5 separate regions of the Homo sapiens genome follow, and all the other regions are linked to region 1. Evidence: fine-mapped expression QTL. A gene starts in region 1. Each other region holds a variant in brackets. All regions are shown on one strand. Distances are between the middles of the regions. Region 1 holds the start of ENTPD5 (ectonucleoside triphosphate diphosphohydrolase 5 (inactive)). Region 2 holds the start of LOC107984690 (a long non-coding RNA gene). Region 3 holds the start of LINC02274 (long intergenic non-protein coding RNA 2274). Region 4 holds the start of LOC105370564 (a long non-coding RNA gene). Region 5 holds the start of LIN52 (lin-52 DREAM MuvB core complex component).

The links. PIP is the estimated chance that this variant, and not a neighbour inherited with it, causes the effect.
Region 2: its variant is fine-mapped to the expression of ENTPD5 in whole blood (INTERVAL, PIP above 0.99).
Region 3: its variant is fine-mapped to the expression of ENTPD5 in uterus (GTEx, PIP 0.96).
Region 4: its variant is fine-mapped to the expression of ENTPD5 in pancreas (GTEx, PIP 0.98).
Region 5: its variant is fine-mapped to the expression of ENTPD5 in memory regulatory T cells (Schmiedel 2018, PIP 0.95). The same link has a PIP of 0.9 or more in naive CD8 T cells.

Annotation. Positions count from the first base shown.
Region 1 is chr14:74,016,831-74,021,932 of GRCh38, forward strand. ENTPD5 (ectonucleoside triphosphate diphosphohydrolase 5 (inactive)) reads right to left here and starts at 2,458. Exons shown (of 16, transcript NM_001249.5): 1 at 2,420-2,458. It overlaps BBOF1 (basal body orientation factor 1), which reads left to right and starts at 2,519. Exons shown (of 12, transcript NM_025057.3): 1 at 2,519-2,704. The coding sequence starts at 2,649. RefSeq lists silencers at 1,816-2,110, 2,026-2,095, 2,136-2,275, 2,286-2,355, 2,386-2,635 and enhancers at 4,916-5,102, 4,976-5,102.
Region 2 is chr14:74,938,298-74,943,399 of GRCh38, forward strand. PGF (placental growth factor) reads right to left here. Exons shown (of 7, transcript NM_002632.6): 7 at 3,537-4,436. The coding sequence ends at 4,409. LOC107984690 (a long non-coding RNA gene) reads left to right here and starts at 4,432. Exons shown (of 3, transcript XR_001750826.3): 1 at 4,432-5,102. The variant CACACAG/C (reference allele first, on the strand shown) is at 2,258.
Region 3 is chr14:73,829,142-73,834,243 of GRCh38, forward strand. It overlaps LINC02274 (long intergenic non-protein coding RNA 2274), which reads right to left and starts at 994. Exons shown (of 2, transcript NR_135238.1): 1 at 755-994. The variant G/A (reference allele first, on the strand shown) is at 2,139.
Region 4 is chr14:74,217,747-74,222,848 of GRCh38, forward strand. It overlaps LOC105370564 (a long non-coding RNA gene), which reads right to left and starts at 18. Exons shown (of 3, transcript XR_944025.3): 1 at 1-18. The variant T/C (reference allele first, on the strand shown) is at 2,280.
Region 5 is chr14:74,084,899-74,089,985 of GRCh38, forward strand. It overlaps LIN52 (lin-52 DREAM MuvB core complex component), which reads left to right and starts at 58. Exons shown (of 6, transcript NM_001024674.3): 1 at 58-95. The coding sequence starts at 77. RefSeq lists enhancers at 1-146, 1,087-1,176. The variant CA/C (reference allele first, on the strand shown) is at 2,515.

The DNA of each region.
Region 1 (5,102 bases):
ATATACAGCCTGTGACAGAAGATGCCCTACTCTCTTTTCTGCAGCTTATCAACAGTGTGCTTTTTCAGAACCTTACACATACAAAATTAATGGTAACTTTATAGATTTTACATCAGAGATAAACTCTTCAATATATGGCGATTCCGCCTATGGACTCACGGGAGTGTGAAAGTATACCAGAAATACACTCAGAAAAAGCTATGATCGGCCAGGCGTGGTGGCTCACGCCTGTAATCCCAGTACTTTGGTAGGCCGAGGCGGGCGGATCACCTGAGGTTGGAAGTTCGAGACTAGCCTGACCAAAATGGAGAAACCCCGTGTCTACTAAAATTACAAAAGTAGCCGGGCATGGTGGCGCATGCCTGGATTCCCAGCTACTCGGGAGGCTGAGGCAGGAGAATTGCTTGAACCTGGGAGGTGGAGGCTGCGGTGGGCCGAGATCGTGCTATTGCACTCCAGCCTGGGAAACAAGAGCGAAACTCCATCTCAAAAAAAAAGAAAAGAAAAAGCCATGATCATGCTGGCAGATGGTATGTATAATAAGGTTTACGCCAGCCTGACCAACATGGAGAAACCCTGTCTCTACTAAAAATACAAAATTAGCCAGGGATGGTGGTGTGTGCCTGTAATCCCAGCTACTCGGGAGGCTGAGGCAGGAGAATCGCTTGAACTGGGAGGTGGAGGTTGCGGTGAGCCGAGATCGTGCCATTGCACTCCAGCCTGGGCAACAAGAGCAAAACTCTGTCTCAAAAAAAAAAAAAAAAAATTTTACAGCCGGGGGCGGTGGCTCATGCCTGTAAATCTCAACACTTTGGGAGACCAAGGCGGGTGGATCACCTGAGGCCAGGAGTTCAAGACCAGCCTGGCTAGCATGGTGAAACTCTGTCTCTACCAAAAATACAAAAATTAGCCTGGCATGGTGGCACGCACCTATAGTCTGTTACTGGGGAGGCTGAGGCAGGAGAATTGCTTGAACCCGGGAGGCAGAGGTTGTGGTGAGCCGAGATTGCGCCATTGCACTCCAGCCTAGGCAACAAGAGCAAAACTCTTGTCTCAAAAAAAAGGTTTACAGCCGGGGCGGTGGCCCACGCCTGTAATCTCAACACTTTGGGAGGCCGAGGCAGGTGGATCACCTGAGGCCAGGAGTTCGAGACCAGCCTGGCCAGCATGGTGAAACTCCATCTCTACCAAAAATACAAAAATTAGCCGGGTGTGGTGGCATGCACCTGTAGTCCCACTTACTGGGGAGGCTGAGGCAGGAGAATCGCTTGAACCAAGGAGGTGGAGGTTGCAGGGAGCCGAGATGCCCCACTGCACTCCAGCCTGGGTGACAGAAGACTCTCTCTCAGAAAAAAAAAAAAAAAAGTTTACAAGGCTTATCATTACCAAATCGGCATGTTCCCTCAGAAGAAACAGAAATTCAGAAACAGAAACTATGCAAGTGGGAAACAAGGCGGAGGGGAGTAATTAGAGGTCAAAGACATCGGGAAGGAGTGTACGGATTAAGTCCTCCCTAGAGAAATGGTGACGAAGGATCTACAACCACATTTAAAATAAACTTTTTAATTTGAAATGGAGTATAACAGAGCAGAGCTTCAACCACAAGTCTCCTAACTATTGGCTTGGCACTCAGAATACCGTACCTTCCTTAATGACTCACTGACTGACTCTCATTGAAAAATGAGAATACTTGTGAGTACACTCCTTTTCAGAGGTGTATTCGGGATTTCAGGAGTCGGGGAGGCAAGTTGAAGAGCTTCCAACTTTATGCAACTTTCAGGAAAGAAGGCTGCGGACCGGTATTAGCAAATGGAAATCCGGGGGGCGGTCGTGGGCAGGAAGTATCGGCCACACAGGACCTAGTGAGGCCGAGGACCCTGCTCCCGACCTCGGTGGCAGCACTCCCCTCCCCGCCCGGCTCCCTGGCGTGCCGCTGCTCTTCGGAGGCTGGCAGCCTCGCCCTCAACCACCGCCCTCGGGAAAGTCCTCGACTGCCTATCAAAAAACATTTGGCCTGGGACGTCCGCTGGCTGCACTATCCCTTACAGAATCAGCAAGGGTGAAAAGCCAGGAAAGAGATGCAACCCAAAGGAGTAAGGCAGTGCCGGGAGCGGCAGAAGCGGAGCGGGGGCGAGGGCAAGGTAGCCGCGGCCACGCTGGCTGCGGCATGGAGACACGGGAGGAACGGGACCCGCGGGCGGCACGGGAAAGGGCTGCGGCTCAGACCACTGCGGCGGGACGGGCGGATCAGCGGGGATCTAAGTCTCCTGAGGCAAGGGCGCCCCGACCGCAGCGACTCCTGACACACCCAGGCCGCAGGACGAAGCGCTACCGCCTGGGGCTGCCAGCTCCCGCCTCCCGCCCGCAGAGCCCGGGCCCCACGTAGAGGATCCGGCGCCGCCGACACTCGCACACTCACCGCGCGCGCGCCACCCTTGCGCGGCAGCCCGCCGCCCTCGGCGCGACCTCCGCCCCACCCCGCGCGCCGCGGCGCCTGGGCTACGTCACGGGCGCGTGCGCTCTCCGCGCGCCGTCAGCGGCGCGGGTGGGGCATTGCCAGCTCGGCGTCCCGGTTCCCTTGGAGACAGAGCTGGCCAGGGCGGCCGCGGCTGGGCAACTACGACAGCGGAGCCCCTGGGGAAGCCAAGATGCCGTCGAAGGGAAAGGACAAAAAGAAAGGCAAGAGCAAAGGCAAAGACACGAAGTAAGGAGAAGCCACCCGAGAGTCCCCTCTCCCTGGGCCTGCCTGGGATTTCGGGTCTGGGGCTGGCAACCTGGCGCCCCCCGCGCCGGCCCACTCGGACCCTCTCCCCGGCTCTCCCGGCTTGTGAGGATTACAGCTCCCATGTCCATAGTCTGGCAGATCTCTACTATGTGTTCAGATTATCTTAAACGTGTAGAGGATGTATAAAGTAGTTCCTTGGGCCTTTTCAGAGATCTCTTTTGGTTCAAAGGGGACACCTAAAGTATTTTACCAAGTTGGATAATTATTGAGGTTTTCCCAAACTGATCAGAGCCACTGAGGTGGGTAATGTTCTAGCACTAACCCCTTACAGGCCTGGAGTTGCTGCTAGATTGCTACTAGCCCTATTGGGGGACCCCGGTGGTTTCTGGACACGTTGGAGTCATACGTGGTGTCCAGCAACAACACCATATATGGGAACACAGAGTTGGCACCAAACTTGAGATGTTTGTAAAGTAACTTAAGAGAGTAATTCATGCTCAATACAGAAAGTTTGGGAAACATGGGAAGTACCAAAAGAAAAAACAAAAATCACCTGTAGTCTCATTATCCAAAAATAAACACTACTATATTTTGGAGTATTCTTTTTTAATAAAACGATAGCCCAATGTACATACTTATATGTGGCTTTTTTCTTCCCATTTGTTAATGTAAGTATTCTTTTATGGTATTTTTTTTTTGTTTTTACATAACTGCACAGTTAGTCTAGCCCTTAAAGTGCCAAGGGCTTATCACATTCCTAGAACTCACTAACATATGTTTTCAGATTTTGACCATGCTTCTACAGTACACATTTGAACAATGAGGAACACTAAGGGTAAGAGACCTTATTCCTTGGATTTTCCATGACCCATTGTTTGAGAAACCTGGCTTTGTTTCTACAGTGAGTATCAGTGGTCCTATTAGAGTGTCTAATTTCTTGCATCAAGTACTTTTTTTTTTTTCTTGACACCAAGTTTTGCTCTTGTTGCCCAAGCCGGAGTGCAATGGCACGATCTCAGCTCACTGCAACCTCTGCCTTCTGGGTTCAACCAATTCTCCTGCCTCAGCCTCCCGAGTAGCTGTGATTACAGGCACCCGTCACCACGCCCAGCTAATTTTTTTATTTTTAGTGGAGACAGGGTTTCACCATGTTGGCCAGGCTGGTCTCGAACTCCTGACTTCAGGTGATCCACCCGCCTCGGCCTCCCAAAGTGCTGGGATGACAGCCGTGAGCCACCATGCCCTGTCGCATCAAGTACTTCGAGCCACTCAGACCTGATACCTGGATGGTCGTAGTGAGACAGTGTATCACTAGTGCCTAAATCATGCCAGAAAGGGACATCAACAGCTATAACAGGCTGAGGGGTTGGGAATGGAGCTGGCCTTAATTTGAAGAGAACAAAAGGTGAAAGTGGGACTTTGGTTCTCTCCACTGCAAACCCATTACCTCTGTGGAAGAGGACTGAGAACCAGAGGTAGGAAAGTGGATGTGGAGGGTGGCAGTATAGAAAGGTCCACATGTACATATGTGTGAAAATATTTAGAATTCAAATACAGGTGAAATATTCTTAAATATGTACATATTTATATATCATGGTACCTACCATATATAAGGGGGAGTGTTTTGTTAATGCTTATACAATAAATATTTAGAAAAATCTCTTCCTTTACCACTTTAATCTTTGAATCCATCCTTTTTCCTCTCCACCTCTATATAAATGATTATGGTTTCTCAGGCATCCTTAAAGCCCGGTGGGTGGGGCATCGTGGCTCATGCCCAGCACTTTGGGAGGCTGAGCAGGGGAAGATCACTTGAGCCCAGGAGTTCAAGACCAGCCTGAACAACATAGGAAGACCCTGTCTCTACAAAAATTTTTATTAAAAATTAGTTGGGCATGCTAACTCATGCCTGTAGTCACAGTTACTTAGGAGGCTGAGGTGGAGGATCGTTTGGGCCTGGGAGGTTGAGGCTGCAGTGAGCTGTGATGGTGCTACTGCACTACAGCCTGGATGACAGAGCAAGATCTTGTTTCAAAAAAAAAAAAAAAGTCCGGTGAACTGTGGCACCAGCTGATAAACTATTTAACGTATTTGCCCTAGTGACTTGACTTTTTGTCCAAGACCTAGCCCAAAACAAAACAAAACAAAAACACCATCCTGGCTAACACGGTGAAACCCCGTCTCTACTGAAAATACAAAAAATTAGCCGGGCCTGGTGGCGGGCTCCTGTAGTCCCAGCTACTCGGGAGGCTGAGGCAGGAGAATGGCATGAACCTGGGAGGCGGAGCTTGCAGTGAGCCGAGATCACGCCACTGCTCTTCAGCCTGGGTGAAAGAGTGAGACTCCGTCCCTCCCCCAGAAAAAAAAAAAACACACT
Region 2 (5,102 bases), 920 kb after region 1:
GCTGCGGGTTGGAATAGCTTGGGGTTGGCTGAGTCTCTCTCTCTCTCTCTTTTTCCACATCTCTATACGGCCAGCTTGAGCTTCCTTCCAACATGGTGACCTCAGGGTAGTTGGACATCTTACATGATAGCATAGGGTTCCAACAGACCAAGGCAGAAGCTGCCAGTCCTCTTGAAAGCTAGACTTGAAACAAGTATAGGGTCTCTTCTGCTATAGTCTACTGATCAACGCAGACCCAGGCCAATTCAGATTCAAACAGAGGGAAGACACTTCACCTCTTAAGAGGAGGAATGTAAAATAATTCAAGAGCATCTCTAATATGAGAGAACGCATTTTGGCAGCAAGACATTTTCTTATTAATGTATTTGTTTATATGGGTAACTTGCTTATTGAGCAAGTTTTTTTCCCCCTTCCATCATTGCTTCTAGATGAACTATGTTGGTTCTCCTTTTTCTGTCCCGTAACAGTATCTTGGGCAGATCTTCTAGTATTCCTGTTGCTTTAGCTTATTAAAGGCCCAGCCCCATCTAGGCTGGTCCATCTAACCAAGACTAACCATTTCCCTTCCCCAGGCAGGGTCTGGATTTGGCCCAGGGGAGTGGGGAGGGGTGTAGTTTGCCCCTGTACCCCCACTCCTCTCTCTCTCTCCTCCTCCTTTTCTCTCCCCTTTTCTCTTCTTTCACACAGATGGGGAGGGAGAGCTTTCAGGAAAGTCCCTGTCAGCTGTGGCCATTTCTTCTCTGGCTATGAATGTTCCCGGCATGATGGCGTTCAGATGCTAACTCTCTTGTGGGTTCACCACAGGGCCACCTCGCACCACTGTTCCCTGATGTGAGAGGTCCCTTCAGCTCTATATCTCTCACCCCACCACTCAGCCACTGCCCCAACCTCCACCCAACAGCCTACCGACTGTGGGTCTGCACAGCTGCAGGCCTCCCTCTTGGGAGGACATGGACAAGACAGCTCAAGGACATGCACCTTCCGCCATGTCCACCTGACCCATGGGCAACGACTGCTGGGTGCCCCAAGGAGTCCCTGCCCTGTCTGTCTCTGCCTCTTCAATCCTGCCCTCCCCCAACCTCCCTGTCCAGATGGCGCGTGGGCTGATCTCAACAGCAAATCCAGATCCAGGGAGAGGAGGGGAGGGAGTCAGCACCCCAGGACTCCAGTGACCCATCTCCCTCTCTCTTCCTTCCCCTGTCCTGGTCTTCTGCTTATGGAGACTGAGGAAGGGGGTGCTGGGAGATTTGGGGGCATAGCAGAATTGCTTTAACCATCTCTTAATAAATCCTGTAGGCAAATGGGCCTAGTCTCAAATGGTTCCTTTGTTTTAGAATATGGGGTACTCAAGGCCCTTTTTCCTTAGCTCTGAGTCCGGCCACCCATTCGAGCAGCAGAAAAGGCCCACCCAGTACCCTCTGGCACTAGAGCATGGGCTGTCTCTCCCCTCGCATGTGTGGTCCACGAGAGCAGGGTCCTGTGTGTCTGTCCCCACTGGATCCTGGATGCCTAGTCAGTGTCTAGGACACAGAGGGTGCTCCACAAATAGATGACAAGCAAATCCCTCTAGGACCTAAATGGCTGGAACGGCTGCCAATATAGTCAAGTAGGCCAGCTGGCTCCTTCCTACCCATTCCTGCTGCGAGGCTCCTGCCCACGGATGTGGAGTTTTGCTTCTGGCTTCCAGGAGCTTTTCTGGTTTCTGTCTTGCTCTCTACAGGGGTCACTGGCCTGGGTCGGGAGGCTGCCCGCCATGTGGGTGACCTTATGGAGCCAAAAGCCTTGAAGATGCTACCGGGCCTGGGTTGGGGTCCTCAGGGCTGAGCTAGAGGCCTGGCCAGTGGGAGGGGATGGGTGCTCTTCCCAGTTCACAGTGGGTCAAAGGCAACAGCTCAGAACAGCTGCAGCTAAAGAGAGGAGAGGCAGGAGAGGAAGTGCATTTCTTTGGCAAAGTATGTCTCCTGGGGCTGACTCACACCCGTCTATGACCACAGCCAGAAGCACATTCTGACCAGCGTGTCCTGCAGAGTCCCCAGGCCTCGGTGAACAGGGCACCAAGGACAGCTGCCTCAGCAGGGCCACCCCACTCCGCTGGACATCCCCAGCTCCCCTCAAAGCCCCAGGCAGGCCCCTGTGCCCCTGGGTCCCTGTGGGTTTCTCCTCAGCAGCCTCAAATGAGGAAGTGAGGCTGAGGAGAGAATGGGGGAACTTCTCTTCCCCCAATACATATAGCAGCATATAACATCAAAGACACAGA[CACACAG/C]ACACACACACACACACACACACACACACACACACACACACACACCCCTTGCAGGTCAGAAGCAGAGTGGAGTTTGATAGTAAGTGGTTTGGATTAAAAAAAAAATAGGCCTGGCATGGTGGCTCATGCCTGTCATCCCAGCACTTTGGGAGGCTGAGGCGGGTGGATCACTTGAGGTCAGGAGTTCAAGACCAGCTTGGTCAACATGGTGAAACCCTGTCTCTACTAAAAATACAAAAATTAGCCGGGCATGGTGGCGCACGCCTGTAATCCCAGCTACTCAGAAGGCTGAGGCAGGAGAATCGCTTGAACCTGGGAGGTGGAGGTTGCAGTGAGCCGAGATTGTGGCACTGCACTCCAGCCTGGGCGACAGAAGGAGACTCCGTCTCAAAAAAAAAACCATTAAAAAATAATAAGAAGATTTATTTTTTTCCTGCCAAAGCACTGAGGAGGAAGACGGAAGGAACTGGGGGGTAAAAGGCAGAGAAATCCGGGCAGCATCTGCTGGTCCTTGCGTCTGTTCAGCAGCCCGAGCAGGCTATACGTGCTGCCGTTCAGCGCCCTGAGACCCAGCCCAGGATGTCTATCAGGAGGGCCGGAGGAGTTCGGGAGTCCTTGCGGCACTGGGCTGGGGCAGCCCTAAGCCCTGGGAGAGGAGGAGATTGTGCTCTTGATGCTGTTAAAAAGTGGCTGGGACCAGCCTCTCCTCAACTTTGGAAACAAAACTACATCTTGGGAGCTCCTCGTTAGGGAAGGGGCGACCCCAGGGTGCTGTAGAAGCAGGTTGGGCGACCTCCGGGGCAGCCTTGAAGTGGCCTCCACAGGAACAGTCTCCAGTGACCACCCAGGGCCACCGAGACTTGAGCCTGGGCCCCAGTAGAAATGTGTCAAAGCCAGAAGAGCCATCTAGCCAGGCCCCTCAGGTCAGAGATGAAACGTGAAGGCAGAGGGAAGCCCAGTGCCACTCGGTGAGTTATAGACAAAGCCAGGCCTCTGACCCCCGCTTCAGTGCTCTTAACTCTCCATCAGCCATTTCACCTTCTTGGGCCTAAGTGTCCTCAGCTGTCAAAAGGAGGAAGGAAGGAGCAAGCTAACATGTTGTCGTGAGCTGTGACATGCCCTCTCGTCGACTGAGCGAGGCTTTTGAGATAAGGAAACTGAGGCTCGGAGAAGGTGCTGTGCTCTTCCTGTTACACCCCGATCCCTGGGTCTGTCTGGCTTCCGTTCCCGGCTGACGCTCACTGCCCCGGAAGACACACCCACTAGATCAGCGTTTCCACACTAGAATACTTTATTCAAGAGAATCTGGCTTGGCAGTCAGATGGCCCTGCAGGGACAGCTTGTGGGGGTGCCAGGGCCCTTGGGGAACCTGCTCCCCTGCCACTGCCTTCAGCTGGGACGCACAGGCTCCTCCCCTGGTGACCTCATCCCCACTGGCTGAGCTGTTTCTCATCCAGGCAGCTCTTTCTCCAGCCCGGGGCCCACTCTGTATGTGTCTCTTAGGGGGGGCAGGGTGGTGGCACCTTGGCCGGAAAGAACAATGTCCCAGTACAAGCAAATGGCAAAGTGTGAGGGGAGATCACGGGGGACAAGGAGTGGCAAAAGCCCCCAGGCAACCACTGTTCTCCAGAGCTGAATGTTCTGATCTTCAGAAGAAGAGGGGGAAGTGGCTGGATCCCCTCCGCCCGCTGCCGGCCTTCCCACCAGCCAGGCCGTGGCGGCCCCAGCAGGATCCGCATCCCTACTTTGGACAGGAGCTCCGAAAGCAAGGGCTGCTTGTCTGTGCAGAGCCTGAGGCCCAAGAACAGGTAGCAGGGCCCCCTTCTTTCCTTCTGCAGGCCCCTGGAGACCTCCAGGGCCTCTGGGGCCTAGCTTGCCCCTCACGAGGCCACGTGTCTTGCTTCTTTCAAAGCGGAAGCTCCCAGGGGTCTGTGGCTGGCTTCTCTCTTTCTCTCACGTTGTTGAAGGCACTGAATTCCTGAGGGTCCTGTCCTTCCCTGCCCCTCGTCTTGAAGGGAGCGAGGCATTCAGCAGGGAAACAGTTGGCTAATAAATAGAGGGCAGGTACCAGCAGGAGTCACTGAAGAGTGTGACGGTAATAAATACACGAGCCGGGTGCGGGGTCTCTCTCCTCCAAGGGGTGGGTTACCTCCGGGGAACAGCATCGCCGCACCTGCCAGAGACCAAGCACAGACGGGGCGGGTATCAGCACACTGTGGAGGGTGCGGTCTCCTCCTATGGAGGAGGGGGCAGGCCCAGAGGAGGAGCTTGGGCAGGGAGCATGGGGAGGGCGCAGTGCTCCTGGGTCCCTGCTTGCTTCAAGCTGAGGAGAAGCTGGGAGCTACCCTTCACCAAACACTTACCCATGTGCCCAGCCCTGTGCCAAGCACTGTCTTCTTAACCCTCAACAACCTTCCATGAGGAAGGCACCCTGATTATTCTTGTGAAGATTAGGAAACTGAGGCCCAGAGAGGTGAAGAAGCTTGCCTGTGGTCACACGGCCAGTCGGTGACAGAGCCACATTTGAACCTAATCACACTCCATGCAATCATGCCTCTGATTACCCTAAGACAGCAGTCTCCAAACAGGGGAGTACCGCTAGACGCACGTGAGGCCTGAGTACTGACGGTTTTAAAGAAATCCATTTTCAGCCTCCAGGTCTACATTGCCTTAAAATTATTTTTGTGAGGCAGTGGCTGAGATCTGCTTCTCTGGCCACAACACATCTTGCTCATTCTAAATCCTCATAAAGTGCTTTGCTGCCAGGTAAAAGTATTCTGAGGACATGAAAAAAAGAACAATTTGAGATATTGATGTAGGTCTTGAGAAAGAAAATATG
Region 3 (5,102 bases), 190 kb before region 1:
ATTCTATTTAAGTTAGTTTTTGTTTCAGTTTTTGGAATCTCAGCTTCAGATTTGTGTTAGTAATAAAACAACTTAGGTTTGGTGCCTCCTAAAGCAGACCCTGAGACAAGAACTTGGGTGACAATAGTTTACTTGGGAAGATATCCAAGGAAGACGGGGAGGGAGAGAGGAGAGTGATACAGGAAGGACGGAAAGCCAATGAAAGATACATTACTGAGCTGGGTTGTCACTGTGGACAATTGGCTCAATCTCCCTGCACACTTTTGAAGAACCATATAGAAACCACCCAAAATTGTCCTGCTGAAGTGTGAGAGGTTGGGACATTTATCCAGCAACCTTCATCTTCCATTGGCACTCTCCCACTCCCCTACTACCCAGCTCCCGCCCCTTTCTTCTGTGGCTGTATCTGCAAGTTGGACTGAGCAAGCTTCCAAGCTGAGGAGAAAATTCTGAAGCAGAAAAGCTGAGAGACTCCACTGGTGCTTGAGACGTGAAGCCATCAGCATGCATAGGAGCTGTTAGCCACAGCTGCATCACAAGCCACAGGCCTCAGTTCCAGTTGATCTACAGCAATCCTGTGGGCATGCACACCTTTGCTGTTGTCTGACCTACTTCTTGCCCTGCACCTTCCTATTCATGTATTGACTACACCTGACCTCTCTATCCTGACACAGTGAGACCCACTCAAACCGCTTCTTGGGCCTGATCTAGGTGAGCAGCCCCTCTGCCTCTCTGGCCCAGCCTCTCCACTTACCCGCTCTGGCAGGCCTTCAGCAGCCTGCCCTTGGAAATTTTGCACTTTTCCTTTTGCCAGTAGATATGTGGCTCTCATTTCTTTCCTTCTTTTCCTCTTCTCTCCCATTTACACTTTGATCTTGTCAGACTCTCCAATGGCATTATCAAGCCCTACTCAGATCATTGGCTTACCCTGACACAGAGAAAGTGCTCACACTCAGCATCAAATAACACAAATAAGAAGGATGCCCAATACTATTTGAGCACTTACTAAACGGAAAGCGCTGTGTGAAATGTGATTCAGTCATTATTTTATTTTCACAACAGCCTGATGAGGTCAGTACTCTCATTATGTCGATTTCTCAGAAGAGGAACTGCGGCTGGGAGAACGTGACTCATCTAGCTGATGGAGCTGAGGTTCAAGTGCAGGTATCTGGCCTTGAGGACTTACTTTTGACCACTCTATCACCAGTTAGCTTAGCCATTAACTACCAACTGATCCTCGGAGACAGGACCTCATTTCTTCTCCTTCTTCTTTTTTTTTTTTTTTTTTTTTTGAGACGAAGTTTAGCTCTTATTGCCCAGGCTGGAGTGCAATGGTGTGATCTTGGCTCACTGTAACCTCTGCCTCCCAGGTTCAAGCGATTCTCCTGCCTCAGCCTCTCAAGTAGCTGGGATTACAGGCACGCACCACCCGCCCAGCTAATTTTGTATATTTAGTAGAGATGGGGTATCACCATGTTGGTCAGGCTGGTCTCGAACTCCTGACCTCAGATGATATACCCACCTCAGCCTCCCAAAGTGCTGGGATTACAGGCATGAGCCACTGTGCCCAGCGGGACTTCGTTTCTTGTATGTGGGTTTTGACCTTTCAAGTAGAGTATAGCACCTTGGCTGGTTTGTTGTTGTTGTCTATATGGATTTTTTCTTTTTCATTTTCTTGGTTCATGGTATTACAACCATGTGATGCTTTTTTTAGGGCTAACTTAATGGATTTCTCTCCACCAATCTCTTGATACTAAAATTCTTTTTTTTTCTTTTTTTTTTTTTAAGACGGAGTCTTGCTCTGTCGCCCAGGCTGGAGTGCAGTGGCCAATCTCGGCTCACCGCAAGCTCCGCCTCCTGGGATCACGCCATTCTCCTGCCTCAGCCTCCCAAGTAGCTGGGACTACAGGCACCCGCCACCACACTAAGCTAATTTTTTTGTATTTTTAGTAGAGACGGAGTTTCACTGTGTTAGCCAGGATGGTCTCAATCTCCTGACCTTGTGATCCGCCCGCTTCGGCCTCCCAAAGTGCCGAGATTATAGGCGTGAGCCACCGCGCCCGGCATGATACTAAAATTCTACAATTAGAAATTAATTCCTTTGTCCCCACCTCACAGTTATATGGGAGAGACTACAT[G/A]TTAATCCTTCTCAGCCATTTATACCTTAACATGAGTGAACTTCTAATCCTTTCCTGAGAGGTGGTTTTGGAAGAGGAGACAGGGGAAAAGCGTGAATGCACTAAGCCCTGATTAAAGGGAAGCCCCCTGATGCCATCACCTTACAAAAGCTCTTGCACAAGGGTATCAGGATTTAGGTGCAAGAATGTTCTTGGCAGCATTGTTCATAATAGGCTCAAAACAGAAACAATCCTATCTATTTTTTTTTTTTTTTTTTTTTTGAGACGGAGTCTCGCTCTGTCACCAGGCTGGAGTGCAGTGGCGCAATCTCAGCTCACTGCAACCTCCGCCTCCCGGGTTCAAGTGATTCTCCTGCCTCAGCCCCCGCAGTAGCTGGGACTACAGGCGCCTGCCACCAATCCCAGCACTTTGGGAGGCTGAGGTGGGTGGACCACGAGGTCATGAGTTCAAGACCAGCCTGGCCCAGAGGGTGAAACCCTGTCTCTACTAAAAATACAAAAAAAAAAAATGAGCTGGGCATGGTGGCAGGTGCCTGTAATCCCAGCTACTTGGGAGGCTGAGGCAGAGAATTGCTTGAACTCGGGAGGCGGAGGTTGCAGTGAGCCAAGATCGTGCCACTGCACTCCAGCCTGGGTGACAGAGAGAGACTACGTCTCAAAAAAAGTAGAAAAAGAATGAAAGAGATGCATCGTAGTGGATTCATACAATACAGCAATGAAAATGAGTGAGCTACGGTGACAACCAGTGAGTTAGTTGTTTGAATCCCACAAACATAACATTGAGGGAAAGAAGCATGATACAGAAGAATGTGCACAGTGGGAATCCACACATATAAAATTCAAATACAGGTGGTAGATTATAAAGAACAAGAAGGAATTAACATCATGAAAGTTAGTATAATAGTAATTCTGATAGGAGGGAGATGGTTGTGATCACTCAGGGGATGCACAGGGAACTTCTTGGGTGCTGATTATTACTATTTATTTTATTTTATTTTATTTTATTTTTGAGACAGAGTCTTGCTCTGTTACCCAGGCTTGCGTGCAATGGCACAATCACAAGTCATTGTAGCCTCAACCTTCTGGGCTCAAGTGATCCTCTCACCTTAGCCCCCCAAGTAGCTAGGACTATAGGCACGTGCCACCATGCCCAGCTAATTTTAAAATTTTTCATAGAGACGGGACATCACTTTGTTGCCCAGTCTTGAACTTCTGGGCTCAAGCAGTCCTCTGGCCTCAGCTTCCCATTGTGCTGGGATTACAGGTATAAGCCACCATGTTTGGCCATTATTATTTCTTGACTTGAGTGTTGGTTACACAGGGGGCTGCTTTGTAATTATTTTTTAAACTGTCCAAAGATATTCTATTCGTTTTTCTTTTTTCTCTTTTTTTTTGAGACAGAGTCTCGCTCTGTCACCCAGGCTTGAGTGCAGTAGCTCCATCTCAGCTCACGCAACCTCTGTCTCCAGGGTTCAAGCAATTCTCCTGCCTCAGCCTCCCGAGTAGCTGGGACTACAGGTGTGCACCACCATGCCTGGCTAACTTTTTTGTATTTTTAGTAGAGACAGGGTTTCACCATGTTGGCCAGGCTGGTCTCAAACTCCTGACCTCAGGTGATCCACCCAGCTAGGCCTCCCAAAGTGCTCAAAGTTTTCTATGCATTTTTCTATATGTATTTTTCTATATGTATGTTGTATTTTACTATTTTGAAAAGCAAAAATAAAGGAAGAAAGAAGAGGAGGGAAGGCAAAAGGTAAAAAGAAAGAAAGTAAGGAAGAAAAGGGAGAAAGAAGGAGGGAGAGAAGAAAGGAAGGAAGGAAAGGAATGCCAGCTCCTCAATCCAGACCTCATTTGTTTGTATAGCTAATCCAGATAAGGTTCTGGGAGACCTGGAAGAGAAGTGGTCAGGTTTTTGGGACAAATGGCACATAGCATCTGTGAATAATCAACTGTGCTAGATACTGCCAAATAGTTTTCCAAGTGACTGAATCCAATGTATTCCCTCCCCAGCCATGTATGAGTTCCCATTGTTACACATCCTCTTCATCATTTGATATCATCAGGCATAAAGACATCTTATTGTTGTTTTAAGTTGCATTTTCCTGCTAATTAATGAAGTTGAGCGTCTTTTAAATATATTTTTCCTCTTTTGTGAAGTGTCTATTTTTTTCTAGTGGGTTGCTTTTTTTTTTCATATTGATTCATTGGAGTATGCATTTTGGATATTAGGGCTTTGCTGGTTGAAAGTGTCTTTTTGATGGCTTGTTGCCTGTGTTTTTATAAGTAGGAGGGGTGGAGGCAGCAGGGGCCCACCACCTCTGAATTCCTTTGCCCACTGTTTGGGTGCCTCGGGGAATTTGCTCAGCCTTCATGGGCAGCGGTTGCCCTTTCTGACGCAACTAGGAATTCCTGGCACCACGACCAGGGGCCCTGCTCTCCCCTCAAGAGGCAAGCTGCCCAGGAAGCCAGGGAGGCCCCTGTGAGAATGACAGTGTGTGTGCTGTGCACACAGAGCCTGTTTTGTGTTTTCTTCCCCTCTACTCTCTTCCATTAGCAAAGAAAATGGAGTTTGGGCGCTGTGTCAACCACGTAAACTTTTACTTATACATCAGTGCAGAAAAGAACAAAATAGGAAAGGACTGCATGGTCGGCCAATTTCTGACGCCCTTTTTACTAGCCTGGATTTTAAGTCTAGAACACAATAGTAGAGGCTACCTAAGAACATTAAGGCAGCTGTGCCAGGGCAGAGAGAGGAGTTCCCATCTTGCCAGGGGCAGTCACATCACCTGCATCAGCATGTGAAGCAAACATAAAGAATGTCACTAATGGGCTTGGAGGTCATTAGCAACCCTGCCTAAAATACCTATCTGAATAAGGGACTGGCTCCCAGCAGGAAGTGAGGGGTAACTGAGTTGTTTCTAATAGTCCGTTCCTATTATCCTATGCTAATTCTCCCTGAGAGGA
Region 4 (5,102 bases), 200 kb after region 1:
CAACCGCCACCTGCCTCTCTGGTCTCCTCCCACCCCGAGGGGATCGCGCTCGCGCCGCGCCACTCGCGCGGCCACCGCTAGAGGGAGCCGGGAGCGTCTCCGAAGTCTCCCGCTTGCGGCTTCGCTCAGGCGCTGCCTTTCACCCGCCTCGCAGGGGCTGCGAGGCTCCGACAAGACTGGTCCCTTCTTGTCATTAGGCCCTAGGCCCGCAGCCCTCCGCGGCCCCGACCTCTAGGAGGTGCCCAGCACCAACAGGCCGACCCTATGCTCCCTACCCAGCCCTCCGCTATGAAAACCCTAACGCTGCTCTGCTACTGCCCCCATTTTACCAATTAGGACACAGAGAGGCTGACAGATGTACCTAGGGTCACACAGCGAATGCGTGGCAGAGCCGGAAACCCAGGGGGCCTGGCTCCGAACCCCCATGCCTCAGAGGATCTCAAGCACCTTCTTGTATCTTTCTGTTCAAGGGGAAACCGAGGCACAGAGCAAGTCTAGAGCATACTGTGTGGGTGGCCCAGTCTGCCAAGGACCGACAGGAGGCTAAAGCTAGGCGGCCAGCCCCTAGGCAGATGACCACAGCAGAAAAGCCTGTGGGGAGAAGAGGTGCCAGCCTGCCCCAAGGTGGGGGTGGAGGGGGCTGTTGGTGCCTCCCAGGATGGGTGACAGCTGCAGCCTTGGGTGGGAGGCCAGAGGCCCCACACGATAATAACTTTCACTCACTGCCCAAGAGCTAATCCCATTACTCTGCATGGACCCTCTGGGACCACCTCCCTAACCCCCCTTAATCCCCTGTCTCCCTCTGGGAATGGTCCAAGGGCCTCCCTGCCAGCCCATGCCAGCCCCAGGCACAGGCAGACCTTGCCCCTCAAGCTCTGTCAGACCACCTGTGCCCATGAATGCCCATCGTGCCTGATTCTTGGGGCCCCAAAGGGACAGCCAAGAAGGGTGGAGGTCCAACCTCTCTCACCCACCTTCCCTGCCATCCCTGACCCTGCCTGCCAGTCCCCAAGGCACCTTCCCAAAATAGCCTCCGGCTGGGATCCAGGTTTTCTGAGCCTCGTGTTCCTTTCTAAGCAGGCTTCTGGGGCTTGTTATCGTTTTTGTTGAAGGAATTGGCAGGAGAGAGCTTGGGTCCACAGTATATTCATCTGTAAAATGGACGCAATCGCCCCCAATTTCTATAGTCGTTCCGAGGATACAATGAGACACTATGAGACACGGAGGACACAATGAGACACAAGCCTCCGGAGTGTTATTATCAGTGGTACAGAGCTGTCTTCAGATATGCAAAGGAAGTGGATTTCTTTTGTGTGTTACCAGAAGGAAGCTCCATGGCCAGAAGGCAGATGTTAGAGAGGAAGATTCTGAAAGATACACACTGTCCTATAAGGGTGATAAGAGCCACCATGTACTTGTCTTGGTCTCTTCCTTAGGTGCCAGGCACTTAAGCTTCACAGCACTCTATGAGGTAGATACTGTCATTACCTGCGTTTTGCAGACGTGGGAACTAAGGTTAGGAAACGGCACACAGTGGTGGAGTTGGAATCAAAAACAGCTCTGACTCCAGAATTTTCTGGGGCATTCTGCCTCTCAGGATCTGCTTCTAAAAGGGGGAGCTGATGTCTGAGAGCCACTCCGCCCCCAAAGTAGTGAGCTTCCCATTTGCCAAAAGTGTTCAAGGTGATGCTGAGGGGCCACACCAGGAACCACCGGTCAGGAGCCCTGAGGTCCCATGGCAGCCCCCAATCCTCCCAGCATCCCCAGGCGCGGGTTTCCAGGAGGAGCCAGGCCACTGCCCCCTCCCCAGCCTGGACACAGAGGGGGCTCCGTTTGGCGCCCTGGGCCTCCCTCTCCCCCACCTTCTGCTGCTCCTCATTTACATAAATTATCTCTCTCCAATTATCCATCCAGCTGTCCCAACGGTGATCTGTGAATGAATTAAAAATGGAATATAATTTAATAATGGCTGATTAGAAGGAGATTAGTTGTTATATAAAAATGAAAAGCCAAGAGCCAGCTAGTTGCCCTTAATCTGAGCCAATACCATCGTTATTCCGGAAAGGCCCCCTGGCCACCATCAGGCAAGGCAGACACGGGGACAAAGACTGGGGGAGTGCCAGGTGGGGCTAGACCACCCCAGAGAGAAGATAGGGCACTGGGAGGCTGGAATTTGCAGCATCTCTGAGCTGTGGGGCGTGGGCATCTCCTGTGGCTTCCTTCAAAACAGGTTTGGGTGGCTTCTGGGGTCCCTTTTTGCTCTAAATTCTAGTCATCCT[T/C]GAATCAAACCACTGGGCTTTCCCAAGGCAGCCAATGACTTACACCAGACCCTGCTAGGCATAGGATCTGGGGTTCAGGAGTTTCGTTCCTGCTCAGGCCCCGCCTCTAAGAACACATAGCAGTAGGGAACACAGACTTCCCCTGAGGGGGTCTACCTGTCTAGGACAGGTGGTCAGAGAGGGTCTCAAGCTTGGTTGGTCCAGACGGTCCACGGAGGATGGACTGGCTGAGACAAAGAAGGGTGAGTGTGCCCAGTGGGACCTCTGGGCCATCTGAACCTCAGGTTAATGACTAGATCTAGTGAAGGGGACTAGTGCCTCTCCTCCAGGAAGTCTTCCCTGATCTCCTGGGCTTTGGGGTGTCCCCAGTGTTTCTACGATGCCCTGTGTTTTCTCCATCAGTGCACTGAGCACTGCCGATGGGGTGTTCAGGCCCCCGTTTGTGAGCTCCATGGCTTCTTCATGTCTGTATCACCAGTGTTGGGCACACAGTGGTTGCTCTACCACATCATTGAACAAATAAAGACACCACCTCCAAAAAGCCTCTGTGATTGCCCTAGTGTAGGTTATGCGCTCCTTTCTTTGCTCCCCAAACACACTGTGATTATGCCTTTAAAAATAAGGCAAGTCATTGCTGTGGAGAATATAGAGAAGGACAAAATTTTAGGTAAAGGTGGATAGATGGAGACAGAACAAAGTGGTTAAGAGGAGCAGTTTGGAGTCAGACTGCCTGCGTATGCATCCCAGGTCCACCTCTTATTGCTGTATGACCTGGGTGGGGCATGTTACTAATTTCTCTGTGCCTCAGTTTCCTCATCTATACAATGGGTGTATATAATAATAGTACCTACTCCATAGGATTTTGTGAGAATTAAATGGAAGCACTTGTGGCTCTTATAATGCTTGTCACACCGAGAGCCTCTCATCTCTGTTGATGGTGCTGGCTGGACAGTGGGCCTGCGCAAAGCCATCCCAACATCCCTGGCTGCTACTTTTACACTGCAGGGCCCACAGGGACACAACACTGTGGCGGGACCAGAATGTTTCACCAACCTCGGGCCTTCCTGAAGAGGCTCACAGCTCATGACATGCCCATGAGAGGGGTCTGAGCCCCGGGGCTCAGGTCTGGGCAGCGAGGCCTGTGTGACTGACATAAGAGGATGTCTGCTAGGCCTGAGCTTGCAGAAAAGGAATGAAAGGGCCGGGTGGCCAGAGGAGTTGGGCATGCAGACCAGGAAGGGAAGGCTGAAGAGCTCTCTGCAGCCGCTGACTCAGGCCTCAGGGGCCATCATGGAGCAGACAGCCAAGGAAATATTGTCCACAGTACCAGAGGCTGGGAATGAACAGGGTGGGCACCAGAGGAGGCTGATTCTCTCAAAATGAGAGGCAGTACAGATTGTGCACAGCAAGTGTTTGTTGATTGGCTAACTGAGCTGCACCGGATTTTTCTAAACTTTCTTAGTCAAGAAAATCTTGATTTCTTATGTTTGTAGAAGGGCCTGGGAATCCGCACATTTGACAAGAGCCCCCGGTGAGTCTCAAGAACAGGAGGTTTTGACCCCAAACTCCATCTGTCCCTCAGTCACTGCTGCAGTGCCCTCTGGCAGTGGGGGCTGACTGGTGACCCCCACCTTGCCCACTACCCTCTGACACTCACTCCCATCTCCACAGCCTCAGCTTCAGTCACTCCCAGGACAATCTCCCTGGTGAAGCCTGAGCACATCGGTCCATATTGCAGCCGGGGGAGGCCTCCCAGACCAGCCCAGGCTGTGGGATAATTTGATATTCAAATCCTGGCAAAGACCTGCTTCAAATTGCTGCAAATTAAGCTGATTTTGCCCCTCTGAATGAGGGATTTGCTCCTGTGGATCAACCCTCTTCCCAGGACTTGATGAGGTCAGGATTAGAGACGGGGAGAAAAAGCCTGAGGCCGGAGGCCGGAGAGCTGGAGAGCTGAGGGGCGGGGGGAAGCCGAGACCCTGGAGTTAGTGAAGGTTCCCAGGGTCTCAAAAGGCAGCTCTACCCAGTGATAGCAGAGCCTCTGAGGCCCAAATGGGTCAGCCCCACTCCTCCATCCCCCCAGGAGAGCACAGCTCTGTACTGTTCCCAAAGCAGTTTGTGGACCTCATCCAATCTTTCCAAGCACCTGTGACCCAGGGCGGAACCGATCACCCCCATTTTACTGATGAAAGGGGAGATGAGGCTTTATTGGCAAAGACAATCTGGACTCAACCACTGCCACCGACTTGCTACGTGACCTTGAGCAAGTGACCTCTCTCTGAGCCTCCTTGTAAGGATGACTGGCGATGCATACACAGTGCCAGGCACATAGCAAGCCCTCCATAGCATGGGCCAAGTTCCTAGCCAAAGCCCTGAAGCTAGAAAATAGCTGAATGGAGAACGTGGGGCTCTCTGGACCTCAGGAAGAGTCAGTCCCCTGCCTTCACCTGGAGGTCTGTGCCTTCTCCCAACTGTACCCCTCCTGATAGGACCTCCCCCATCCCTGGCAGAACCTCATTTCCATCTGTTTTCTCAGGGCCTGTACTGTATATTGCAGCAATTTCAAATGGCACCATTAAAGATTTTATGCTGGAGACGTTAAAATTAAAAAGATCTATGTGCAAAGAGTCACAACGAATTTAATCAACTTGATTTAATAGAAAACAGCAAATGGAATTTATGATGCTCCAAAAGACAAGGGAATTTTTTTTTCAACAAAAAATAATAAAAAGCACTTTGTGGAAAACAGAAAGTGGAGTGGGGTGGGGGTGGGGGCTCCCCATCTGAGAGTTGATCAGAACTTAATCCGCCGTGAACAACCCC
Region 5 (5,087 bases), 68 kb after region 1:
TCTCTTTGGGGGCGTGGCTTATGGAACCTCGTTTTCCCGCCGACGGTTGGCCACGTCACGTGACATGGGTTGGAAGATGGCGTCTCCCACAGACGGTAAGAGCCGGCTTAGAGATCTTTGCCTGCAGCCTCCTTCTTTGCTCTACTGGGAACATCCACTCTGTCTCTGCCCCTCGAACATACATTTCTTTCTTGGGCTCTTCTCCTTTCCCTTTTATTTTTTTTCTTGAGATCCATCGCCGTCTTCAGCTCACCGGTTCTTCACAGCAGCTCCGGAGGTGCCCAGTTTCCCCGCTCTGTACCAGGCGTGTGGAGGAGGGCACTAGGGAGGGACTCATTCTGGGTAAAAGGACAGGGGGGTCGCCCTGTGCCTTCCTTATCTCTATTTGGGCGAGGCTGAGGGTCGAGGAGGAGATGTTTCTGGAGGACGTGGCTTACTGTAGTTTTTTCCTTGGGGTACCCATTGAAAGGATCAGTTCTCTTCTGATTGAGCGCACGGATGGAATGATTCTCACAAACCCTCGCAGGGCTGCTGGCTGACCTCATCTCGATACTGAACCGCAAGAGAAACATGATCTCTCTCCTGTCTCCTCAGTTTGGGACCATTGCCGTGGCAGCAAGAGAAGCGGGGGACGTTCTCGGCCCCTCGCCCTGAGAGTCGCGAGGAGAATCAGTATTGAGCTTTTAAGTGTCGTCTTGCACAGGTCGCAACCTGTCTTCCATCTGCTTTACGTGTTGTTTCTTAAGGCTGAGTGAATTAACGATTTCTGTTTATATATTGTGTAAAATGCAAGTCATTTCAAGTAACAATTAAGTTGTTTTGGTATACTCCCATGCTTTTCCTCTTGGTTCTGCTTTAGAGAGTTAGGGTCTTGCAGTCATTTTTAAACTCATTTTTAGTTCTACCATCCTCATCCCAACTATATATCGATTTTATTGATATATAGGTTTCCTTCCCTTAGACAAAAACATTTTATATTTGGAAGGAATCTTGGAAGTTCATTGCAGGAATGAAGAAATTGAAGCCAAGGTGAGCTATATTAAGTACCTGCTACATGAAAGGCATAATGCTAGGTGCTTTGGGAGACCAAAAGATGACTCAAACATATAAACATTTTTTTTTTTCAGTTTCAGTTCTCTTTTTAGATGTCACCTCCCAAAGAGTCTTTCTTAGAACACAGTATCTGGAGTTGCCCTTTCCCACCATTATTCATTATCTCAGTATCTTCCTTGTCAGCATAGTTACTCTGTTAACTTTGCCCCTTTTGCGCTAGATTGTAAATTCCAAGTTTGTCTTGTTCATAGTTGGATCCAGGTTTAGCACAGTGCCTGACGAACAGTAGGTCTTTAATTAACATTTATTGAAAGATTGATTAGATATATGCAGAAATAATATATTACTTGATCTTAAGTTTTAAGTTTAACCGAGTCTTAAATTTTGTGAGCGCAGGTACATACTGTATTAGAAATTATGGCTGGGCGTGGTGGTTCACACTTCTAATCCCAGCACTTTGGGAGGCTGAGGCAGGCAGATCGCCTGAGCTCAGGAATTGAAGACCAGCCTAGACAACATGGTGAAACCCCATCTCTACAAAAAAATACAAAAATTATCTGGGTGTGATGCCACAAACCTGTAGTCCCAGCTACTTGGGGGGGCTGAGGCAAGAGAATCTCTTGAGCCCAGGGGGTGGAGGCGGCAGTGAACCATGTTCATGCCACTGCACTCCAGTCTGTGTGACAAAGCGAGACCCCGTCTCAGAAAAAAAAGAAGGAAAAAAAAAGAAATTATGGATGTTTGGAGTCAAAAGAGATTCTCCTGCCTGGGTGCGCTCTTGCAAAAATGTCCTTCTCTTGCCAGAAAGAAGGGCATTTAAAAAGTCAGGCAAGGGAATAGGGAGTTATTGTTAATGGGTACCAAATTTCAGTTTGGGAAGGTGAAAGAATTCTGGAAATGAATGTGATGATTGCACAATTAATGTACTTAATACCACTGAAATGTATACTTAAAAGTTATTAAAATGGTAAAATTTATGTATATTTCACCACAGTTGAAAAAAAAAGCCAAGTAATACAAGTAGAAGTAATTGTTATTAAACTTTTTAGTTTATTTTTAAATTGTTTTTACAAACTTTGGGGATTTTAGAGATGTGTTCCTTGAGTTTGATTTTTTTCCCCTGTCATCTCTCAATTTAGTTTCCTTTCTTTGGCCAGGAAGAGTATTAAAAACATTAAATTTGGCTTGGCGTGGTGGCTCACGCCTGTAATCCCAGCACTTTGGGAGGGCGAGATGGGTGGATCACGAGGTCAGGAGATCGAGACCATCCTGGCTAACACAGTGAAACCCTGTCTCTACTAAAAAATACAAAAAATTAGCCAGGCGTGGTGGTGGGTGCCTGTAGTCCCAGCTACTCAGGAGGCTGAGGCAGGAGAATGGCGTGAACCCGGGAGGCAGAGCTTGCAGTGAGCCGAGATCACGCCACTGCACTCCAGCCTGGGACAGAGCGAGACTCCATTG[CA/C]AAAAAAAAAAAAAAAAAAAAAATTAAATTTTTTTCCTTTTCTAGCCATCTCTATGGTCACTTTATTTGCACTCTTGATTTTTAAGTTTTCATTCTCATCTCTTACAAAGTTTCACTCCTCTCCACCTAATGTTTTCTTTTTAATCTGAAAAAATCAAGTCAAGCACTTTGAACTTAAATTCAGCTTCTAAATAAGTATCTCATTCCAAAATATTCCACGGCCTAGCTCTTTCACTTCTATTTTTAGTGTTCCACCTGTCACTGTCTTTAAAATTTAATTCAGATAATATTTATTTTAATATGTTTGTCATTTACTCTTTTGTCTTTTTCGTGATAAATTTGCTGGAGCGTCTTTGAAAAGGAGAAAACTGAAATTCAAATACAGCCATCTAATTACTTAATTTATGAGAGTAAGACTCACAGCAGAGTCTGAGTTCTATCCCAGACTGTGGTATCATAAGGTCACCCATGTAGGTTATTAGATTGTACCCCCAATAATTTTTTTTTAACTTTCTTTTAGAGACAGGGTCTCTCTCACTCTATTGCCCATGCTGAAATGCAGTGATATGATTATAGCTCACTGCACCCTCAAAGGCTCAAGCGATTCTCCCATCTCAGCCTCCTAAGTAGCTGGTACTATAGGCTCACACCACCATGCCCAGCTAATTTATTATTATTATTATTTATTTTGTTTTGAGACGGAGTCTCACTCTGTCACCCAGGCTGGAGTGCTGTGGCATGATCTCGGGTCACTGCAACCTCCGCCTCCTGGGTTCAAGTAATTCTCATGCATCAGCCTCTCCAGTAGCTGGGATAACAGGCACACGCCACCACACCTGGCTAATTTTTGTATTTTGAGTAGAGACGGGGTTTCACCATGTTGCCCAGGCTAGTCTTGAACTCCTGACCTCAGGTGATGCACTCACCTCGGCCTCCCAAAGTGCTAGGATTACAGGCGTGAGCCACCATGCCCCCACCTTATTATTTTTTGTAGAGATGGAGTCTCACTATGTTGCCCAGGATGGTCTCAAACTCCTGGGCTCAAGCAATCTTCCTGCCTCGGCTTCCCAAAGCACTGGGATTCCAGACATGAGCCACTGTACCTGGCCCAATAACTTTACTTTTGTTATGGTTGAACATTCCTCAGAAATCGGTAACAAAGAGAAGCTAATTTTTGGATGCTTTAATTAAGGCAATGTATTAGTTGAGTTCTTTACAATTAAAATGCCATTGGAAATTCCTTTGGAATATTTGGCAAAACAAATTCAGTTTAGAGAAAAGTACATTTTGTACGTATGTATATTTTCTGGGGAGTGAGTTCATTTTATTTCCCAGATTTCCAGAGATGTGGTTACCCAGAAAATGTTAAGAACTGCTGTTTATAGCATTAAATGAACTAGTTATGCAACTGGTTAGCATACTGAGCATACAATAAAAACTCAACAAATGTTAATATTGAGTACTACTGTGTGCAAGGGAAGAGTGGAAGAGAAATGATGTCAAAGAATTAGGTAGAGGCTGAGTAAGATTTTATAGAGTGTGGTAGATACACATTCACAGATTTAGCTGGGAGGAACTTTAAGCTGGAGAGAGACACGAACTGATTGACGTTTAAAAAAATCAATTCTGGCCTCTTTATGGAGAATAGATTCCGGGGGTGTGAAGGGGAAAGGGTAAGAATGGGAGCAGAGAGATCTGTTAAGAGGCTGTTGAAGTAGTCCAAGAAAGAAGTGATGGTTCCTTGGGTTATTTGATTTCAGGGTGTATTCTGAAGGTAGAAACGACTAGATTTACTCATGGATTGGTTATGGAAGGGTGAAGGAAAAGAATGCATGAAGGATGACATCTGGGTTTTTGATCTGAGAATTGGAATTTATGGTAGTGTTATTTCTTGAGATGGGAGAAGATTGGGGGAATATGGTTTTGAAGATAATTAGGTTTAAAGTTTAAGTGGGGATTTTTTTTTTTTTTTTGAGACAGGATGTGGCTCTATCACCCAGGCTGGAGTGCAGTGGTGTGACCTTAGCTAACTGCAGCTGCCACCTCTGGGCTCAAGCCATCCTTCCACCTCAGCCTCCCAAGTAGCTGGGACTACAGGCTGACACCACCACACCTGGCTAATTTTTTTGCTTTTTGTAGAGATGGGTTTTCACTATGTTGGCCAGGCTGGTCTCAAACTCGTGAGCTCAAGCAATCCACCCACCTCGGCCTCCCAAAACTGCTGGGATTACAGGCGTGCACCACTGCATCTGGCCTTAAGCAGTTTTTTTATATGTAAATAGAGAGGGATTCAAATAACCACTTGGACATAAACCTTTGTAGTTCTTTAGAAAGGTTGGGAATGGAAATATAAATATGGAGTCATTGGCATACAGATGAAGATAAAAGTCCTCATGTTGAAATAGGGGAGTTCCCTAACCGCAGGACATACGACAGGGGTGTGGCTTGTCTGTGTGCACTCAATCCTCTTATGGGAGAGGGAGCACGCAGATGGGCAGGTGTAGGAGTCAGGGCGAGCACTTTTGGGCTCCAGCCCCACGGTAGCATCTAGGGGTGGGTGCCTGTGACTCCC